2 linked regions of the Homo sapiens genome follow. The protein of the gene in region 1 interacts with the protein of each later gene in a biochemical or structural test. Each region holds a gene or a part of one and is shown on either strand. Other genes may lie near its edges. The genes, in order: OXSR1 and SLC12A1.

Evidence for each region.
Region 2: the proteins of OXSR1 (region 1) and SLC12A1 interact in a test that uses a peptide from one of them, tested with the Homo sapiens proteins (one large-scale study listed by BioGRID and IntAct).

Annotation. Positions count from the first base shown.
Region 1 is NC_000003.12:38,171,866-38,175,692, forward strand, and holds part of OXSR1 (serine/threonine-protein kinase OSR1), read left to right. Parts: intron 1-3,827. UniProt on the Homo sapiens protein: Effector serine/threonine-protein kinase component of the WNK-SPAK/OSR1 kinase cascade, which is involved in various processes, such as ion transport, response to hypertonic stress and blood pressure.
Region 2 is NC_000015.10:48,204,532-48,208,458, forward strand, and holds the start of SLC12A1 (solute carrier family 12 member 1), read left to right. Parts: upstream 1-1,770; 5' UTR 1,771-1,799; intron 1,800-3,002; 5' UTR 3,003-3,188; coding exon 3,189-3,608; intron 3,609-3,927. UniProt on the Homo sapiens protein: Renal sodium, potassium and chloride ion cotransporter that mediates the transepithelial NaCl reabsorption in the thick ascending limb and plays an essential role in the urinary concentration and volume regulation. Electrically silent transporter system.

The sequences.
Region 1 (3,827 bases):
TGTAAAAATTTGGGCTTTGGGGTTAGACTGACCCAGATTCAAATCCTGACATTGCCTCTTACTAGTTATGTGATCTTAGACAAATTATATGATTAGTTTCCGTGTCAGCTTTTTGTCTGTATAGTGGGGAGAATAGTACCTATGTCACTGGGGCCGTTATATAGATTGAGTGTAATTATTTGTGGGAAGTGTTTAGCTTGTATAAAATGATAGTTGTTATTATCTCTGACTTTTTTTTACCCTTCCCCTTGTCCTCATATTTCCCAATTTTTGGTATTGCCATGAAATATGAAATACTATGTGATGTGAAAGCTTGTGACACTTAAAATAGTTTGAATCTGTTTTTAATGCTTAGTGGAACATTATTGCATTTATTTTATTTTCGCATCTTTTTTTTTCTTAGTCCAGGCCTCATTCAGGTTTAGATGGATTTAGGGATTTATGTTGGACATCGTAGTATAACTGTAAGGACCATCACCATGATATTGCTAATAATACAATATGATGGCAGAGAGGGCTGTGCCAGTTAGGTTTTATTGCCCTGCATCTTGAAAAGTCTCAATAAGTATTTACTATTTACCTCAGACTAGAAAATTGAAAACTTAATACTAGGTTTAAGGTGTGATTCACCTAGCTTTGACACTTTGAAGGCAGTGCAATATATTTCTATTCTTGACTTTCCCTTCTTTTTATTTTCATTGATTGTTTACTAGCCACACATTTTGAGTTTAAAGTTGTGGTTTTCAAATACAGATTCCAGGGCCTTACCTTTAGCGCCTCCATAAATGTGAAGGACTTCGTGCTTTCAATAGAGTGGTGCTTAATAGTGTATTTTTCCATTGATTGGGAGACTCAGCTAAGGTGACATTTTCTATGAGGCCAGCATTGGGCCAACAACCTCATAGTGTTGTATCAAATAAGGCTTACATTTCTCTGCATGTGGGGAAAATGGAAATAATAGTGGCTTAATAAAATCCTTTTTCCCCCTTATATAACAAGAAGACTGGAGGTGGCAGCCTAGGTGCTGTCAGGCACCCAGGCTCCTAGTTTTTTCATGCGACCACACTTAGCAGGTGACTCTCCTTCTCATAGTTGGAAGATGGTTGTTCCACCTCTAGACTCATGCTTGTGTTCTTGTCCAGAAGAATATGGCAAAAGGACAAAGACACATGACAGCTGAGTTGGTTCTCTTTTAAAAGGCTTTCTTTCCTAGATGCCTTACTCAGTGACTTCCACTTCTATTTTACTGGCCAGAACTGTATAATTTGGTCATTTGCAAGGCAGACTGCAAAATGAAGCTTTAGCTGGACACATTATTACTTCAAACAAAATAGGTCAGGATTATCTTACTAAAGAAGGGGAAATTGTATGTTTGCTAAGCAACTAAGAATATTGGCCTCATTTTTTTTTAAAATGAAAATAGTCAAATAGGGTATTGCAAGTAAATAATTTAACCTGATGCATAGTAATCAGTTAATAAATGTTAGCTTTAATCTGAAGAGGTAGTTGCCTACTGATTAAGAGCATAATGTTGAAACTCAGGTAGTTCTTATTTCTAGGCCCTACTCTGCCTAACTAACTGTATGACCTAAGTTTTACCTTAATTACATTGCTTTACTTACATTGTCTTGTAAGACCATGAATACCTATCACATGGAATTATTGTAATGATTAGATGAAAAGAAGAAATGTAAGTAAAGAAAGTGCTCAGCATAGACTTGGCACACAGAATGGATGCTCAGTGAATGTTAATGTACATGATGGTAACGATGAAATAACACCCATGAAGACTGGGCTATTTCTGTGTGTGTTCTGCCCCAAACAAGATTTTTTTTCCTTGAAAATATACCCCACTATGTGATTAATTCATTCAGCAAATATTTCTTGAACTCCTGTTATGTGCCAGGCACTGTTCTGGATGCTGGAGATAAAACAATGAAGCAAACACAAAAAATGCCTGCTTTCACAGAGTTTATAATCTAGAAACTCTAAAGAAGAAAAAGCAGGGAAAGGGGTTAGGGACTGCTAGGGGTGGAGGTGGGGTTTCAGTTTTAGGTCAGGGAAAACCTCACTGAGAAGATGACAGTTGAGGAAAGACCTGAAGAAGGTGAAGAAGTGAATGATGTGGTTATCTGCAGGAAGTTTGTTCCAAGCAGAGGACAACAAGAACAAAGGTTCTGAAGCAGAAGCATGCTAATGTGATTAAGGAATGCTAAGGAGGTTTGAGGGCAGCTAGAGCAGAGTAAATCAGAAGGTGAAGAGACAGATAGGTGAAGAGGTTAGAAAGGTAAGGTGGTATGGATGCTTGGTCCTGATTGTCAGGTTGTAAGTTGTTGTAGGAACTTGGCTTTTGCTTTGAGTAAGACTGAAAATCATTGCAGGGTTTTGAACAGAGATTTAACGTGACCTGACTTTCGTTTTAAAACTCAGGCTGCAGGCTGGGCGAGGTGCCTCACCTGTAATCCCAGCACTTTGGGAGGCGGAGGCAGGTGGATCACATGAGGCCAGGAGTTTGAGACCAGCCTGGCCAACACGGTGAAACCCCATCTCTACTAAAAATACAAAAATTAGCTGGGTTTGGTGGTGCATGTCTGTAATCCCAGCTACTCGGGAGGTTGAGGCATGAGAATCGCTTGAACCCGAGTGACAGAGGTTGCAGTGAGCCGAGATGGCGCCACTGCACTCCAGCCTGGGTGACAGAATGAGACACTGTCTCAAAAACAAACAAACAAACACCTCAGGCTGCAATATGAAGAATAGTTTTATAAGGGCACAAGGGTGGAAGGAGGTTATCCAGGGGAGAGAAGTAGTAGTGGAGATGGTGAGAAGTGGTCAGATTCTGGATATAGCATATTTTTTGAAGTTAGGAGGATTTGCTGTTGGATTAGATGTGAGAGAAAGGGAAGATAAGATGATTCCAAGATTTTTGGCTAGAGCATCTGGAAGAATGGAGTTGCCATCCGCTCAGATGGGAGATCACCAGAGTGAACAGGAGAGCGAGTGATGATTCATTGCAAAACCATCAGGCTGCTTGAATACTTACTTGAAGCATATGGCAGTGTCTTTATTTTCATCTTTGTATGGAGAGAATAGCATGATTTTTATGATGATGACTATTCTTACAGATGTTTTGCCAGTTAATTTTCAACATGACTCTGACAAGAGACCTTATTTAGAAAAGGGGTTAACAAAATTGTAAATTCTTATGTTTTGTGTGGTTCAGGTGACAATACTTTAGTCATCTTTCAAAACAGCCTGGGCTAGTGCTTTTCTTCAGTGAATGCAAAACCTTACTAAAATATACTTTAAAATCTTTAGACTATAAGCCTATTATAGTGATGGCTGGGCACAATTTAGGAGAAAATGTGTTCATTTGATTTGATTCATTTAATTCATTTTTTCCTGACAGGAATATCTACTTTTACATTATCTCTCTCTTTTTTAAAAAATTTATTTTTGAGGTGGGGTCTCGCTCTGTTGCCCAGGCTGGAGTGCAGCAGTATGATCATGGCTCACCTCTGCCTCCCAGGTTCAAGCCATCCTCCCACCTTAGCCTCCCAAGTAGCTGGGACTACAGGCGTGTGCCACCACACCCGGCTAATTTTTGTATTTTTTTGTAGAGACGGGGTTTTACTGTGTTGGCCAGGCTGGTCTCAAACTTGTCAGCTCAAGTGATCTGCCTGCCTTGGCCTCCCAAAGTGCTGAGACTACAGGTGGGAGCCACAATGCCCGGCCCTACGTTCTCTCTCTTAAATTTCTAAGTTTAGTAAAGCGGAGAGAAACTGAAATTTTTTCTTAGTCCTGCTCATGCTTGGGCAGATCCTTCT
Region 2 (3,927 bases), on another chromosome or scaffold:
GACACTCCTATGCCAAAACACTTTCTATATGAGGAATCAGAACCCTTTGTTGAACAGATAAATGCCTTGTACTGGTGACCTTTAAGAGTGGAATGAGTTATAGGTATATACTTGTAATTCTGTCTCTATTTCTGATATAGCCTCACGACATTAGCCTGACTGATTAGCATGACATTTACTTAACGAAGAGGATCTAAAGGGTTTTACTTAGGTGTCTCTAGACACTTCTATAATCCTGTATCAGTTCACTAACTTACCTTTACACTTATTTTTTATAGACAAAATATCTATCCCAATCTCTAATGATTCACCTCACAATCTTGTATGTGCTAAGTAAAAATCCCCAGCTAATTGTAAATAGCGCTAAAATAGTGAAAGCAAGCACTAGGTACAAATTGTTGCTGTTCTAAACCCCATACACAAACTAACTCATTTATTCCTCAAAATAACTCTACAACAAGGTAGGTACAATTATAATCCACAACTGCATTTGCAGATGAGAAAATTAAGGCACAGAAAGATTGAGTAACTTGACTGAGTTCACACAGACAGCAAGTGGCAGGGCCACGACATAAGTTGGGCCTTCTGACTTGAGTCTTGCTCCTAGCCACTATATTACACCACAACCGAGCTACTCAGACAACTGGAAATCACTTAAATCGTTTCTTATAAGAAACAAAGAGGACTCATTCAATCATCCTGATTGATAATCAGTGACAGACTTGAGGGAGGAATTGTTTGCAGTGTTAATAATCACCTACTTGCAGATCTGAAAAAGAAAAACCTTTTCCTCAACAAAACTCAAAAACTGAGTTGGACAAAAAAATGTTTTTCTAGTTGGAGACAGAAAGGTCATTTAGTAGTGCCACTGAGATGCTTACCCACAGTTTGGTTCCTGCTTAAAACAGTTTTCCCTGCTGGGCGCGGTGGCTCACACCTGTAATCTTGACACTTTGGGAGGCTGTGCCGGGCAGATTACCTGAGGTCTGGAGTTCAAGATCAGCCTGGTCAACCTGGTGAAACCCCATCTCTACTAAAATTACAAAAAAATTTAGCCAGGCGTGGTGGTGGGCGCCTGTAATCCCAGCTACTCAGGTGGCCGAGGCAGGAGAATCACTTGAACCTGGGAGACAGAAGTTGCAGTGAGCTGAGATTGCACCAGTGCACTGCAACCTGGGCAACAGAGCGAGACTCCATCTCAAAAAAAAAAAATTTTCCCATATTTCCCAAAATAGAAATATTTTCAATAAATCATTGATTCCACTCTTAATCTGCTTACTTCCCATGCAAAAGAGTCAAGGTAATGTCTACTACAAGCAAGATAAAATCATTTCAGACACTACTTTCTAGTTACAGAGTATAGAAATTGTCTCTGGAGAACTATATTTTGATACACATGCTAAACAATAGGAGGTCACTAGGACTCATCTGTAAGACGGTGGAACTCAATTTATCTATTCCCAAATGACTAATGGCAATGCTCATATTTTTTGGACAATTGCTGTTAAGGGATCCAATTCTCCTTATGAATTAAAGAAACTCTATGTTACTTCCTGTCTAAAAGGATTAATGGTTTACTACTAGTTACCAGTTGATGTGGTACTTAAGTTTCCTCAGGGCTAATGACCTGGTGGGGCTTACAGTACTATTCCAGGCCAATCATTGCACAGTCATCTCTTTCAAGAAAGTTTCTAACCAATAAGCAGAAGCCTAACTTTCTGGCTGAAAGCTAAGTGTCCCATATATTCCTGGGTGACGCTGAAGCAGGTTACATTTCCTCAGAAGAAGGCTCCTTGGTGGTAAGTTGAACATTTCTGGGCAGGGTAAAAATCATACTTAATATTATGTCATAAAGTAGATTCTGAGGAGTAGGTGAGGGTGTCAAGGACTATGAAGAGAAGTGTTTTGTAAAAACTAAAACGATAATAGCTTCATTTATAATTTCCCCAGGAAAGGTTACTTGAGAAATGAAGTTGAGGGTTTTTTTAATTCAAATACACAGCTTTAATAACTGCATGAGAGAGACAAGTTTTTATTTATATTTATCTCATTTTTCTAGAACTTCCCTTGAAAAGCCAAATTTTAAGGTATCAATAAGGAAATATAATTCTAAAGCAAGTGTTTTAAGACAGGCCAGTACTATGAAATTGCGAAAATTATTGTGAAGTCTATTCACCTCACAGTCAAATATAAACCTCTCAATTATTGAAGACATTTCATTAAAATGAGTCAGTAGAGCATGATTATTTTACCTAAACATAGCAGAGGACTTTTTTAAGGTATATGACTTATTTCTTATAGATATATGACTTATTTCTATATTCATATTTTTTTAAGGTTTCATGTTAGTATTTGCAAAACAAACAAATGTATGAGCAAATGAAACATTTGGATCTTGTAAAAGATCTAAGAATTCACAGAGACATCATCTTGATGGGATGTATTTTTTAAATGCATATTCTAAAACATAATTTTTTACTTGTTGCATAGGTAACAAAATTTGGAATTTATAAGTTGAACATGTACAGATTTTTATAAACTAGCAAGAATATATTTTTTAGAAGTTTTGTTTTTCATTTTATATGTTGTATAGTATATATTCCTAACAATCAAAATACTTTGCAGTTTCAGCATTTAGTACTGTCAGTGAACTGTGTCTTAGGCTGAGAATATTCTCATCAGCTCTTACTGTATTCAATAAGTAAAGTTACATCTTTTCTAAAGTCACAGTGAACTCCAGTGCACTGAATTCAAGCAAATACTACAAACACAGGTAACATTTTAATGACTGCATTGGAAGTTCTGTTTGCTGGAACAGTTTTCCAGTTATTTATTATCAGATTTAATTACTCACATGACTAAGGTTCCTGGACAGATAAATTTTAGTGAAATGAGTTTAAAATTGTATGTCTTGTAAAATAAAACTGTTCCCTTATATCCCACCCTTACCTAAATATATTTGTATTACTTGGAACAAGTTTAATTTTCTTTTTCAATGACAGCTTTGAAGAACATCCTGAAGATTATATCGGAGACAATATATCAAGAATCTATTTATTGAATCATCTAGAACAAAAGCCAGGAGCTCCCTAATGGAAGCACATTAGTGTTTATTTTGATGAAGAAATATATAGATTTTTTAAAACAACCACAAAGTAGATAGCTCAGTAAAAAATCAATTTTGGAAGATGTCACTGAACAACTCTTCCAATGTATTTCTGGATTCAGTGCCCAGTAATACCAATCGCTTTCAAGTTAGTGTCATAAATGAGAACCATGAGAGCAGTGCAGCTGCAGATGACAATACTGACCCACCACATTATGAAGAAACCTCTTTTGGGGATGAAGCTCAGAAAAGACTCAGAATCAGCTTTAGGCCTGGGAATCAGGAGTGCTATGACAATTTCCTCCAAAGTGGAGAAACTGCTAAAACAGATGCCAGTTTTCACGCTTATGATTCTCACACAAACACATACTATCTACAAACTTTTGGCCACAACACCATGGATGCCGTTCCCAAGATAGAGTACTATCGTAACACCGGCAGCATCAGTGGGCCCAAGGTCAACCGACCCAGCCTGCTTGAGATTCACGAGCAACTCGCAAAGGTAAGCTTGAAGGACACAAGCAAGTCTCCTCCCTTATTCATAACTTCAGATAATTTCCTTCTCTTTCATTACACTATGAATGAATGTGAAACAGTCAAATGGAGAGGTCTATTCCAAACACTATCCATCTTACTTACAAAACTGTCCCTAGTTCCCAGAAAAGTGTTTCACAGATGCTTTTTCTTTGGATTTTTTTTTTTCTTGAGACAAAGTCTTGCTCTGTCACCCAGCCTGAAGTGTGGTGGACACTGCAGCTTTGAACTCCTGGGCTCAAACAATCCTCCCACCTCAACCTCCTGAGTAGCTGGGACTGCAGGCA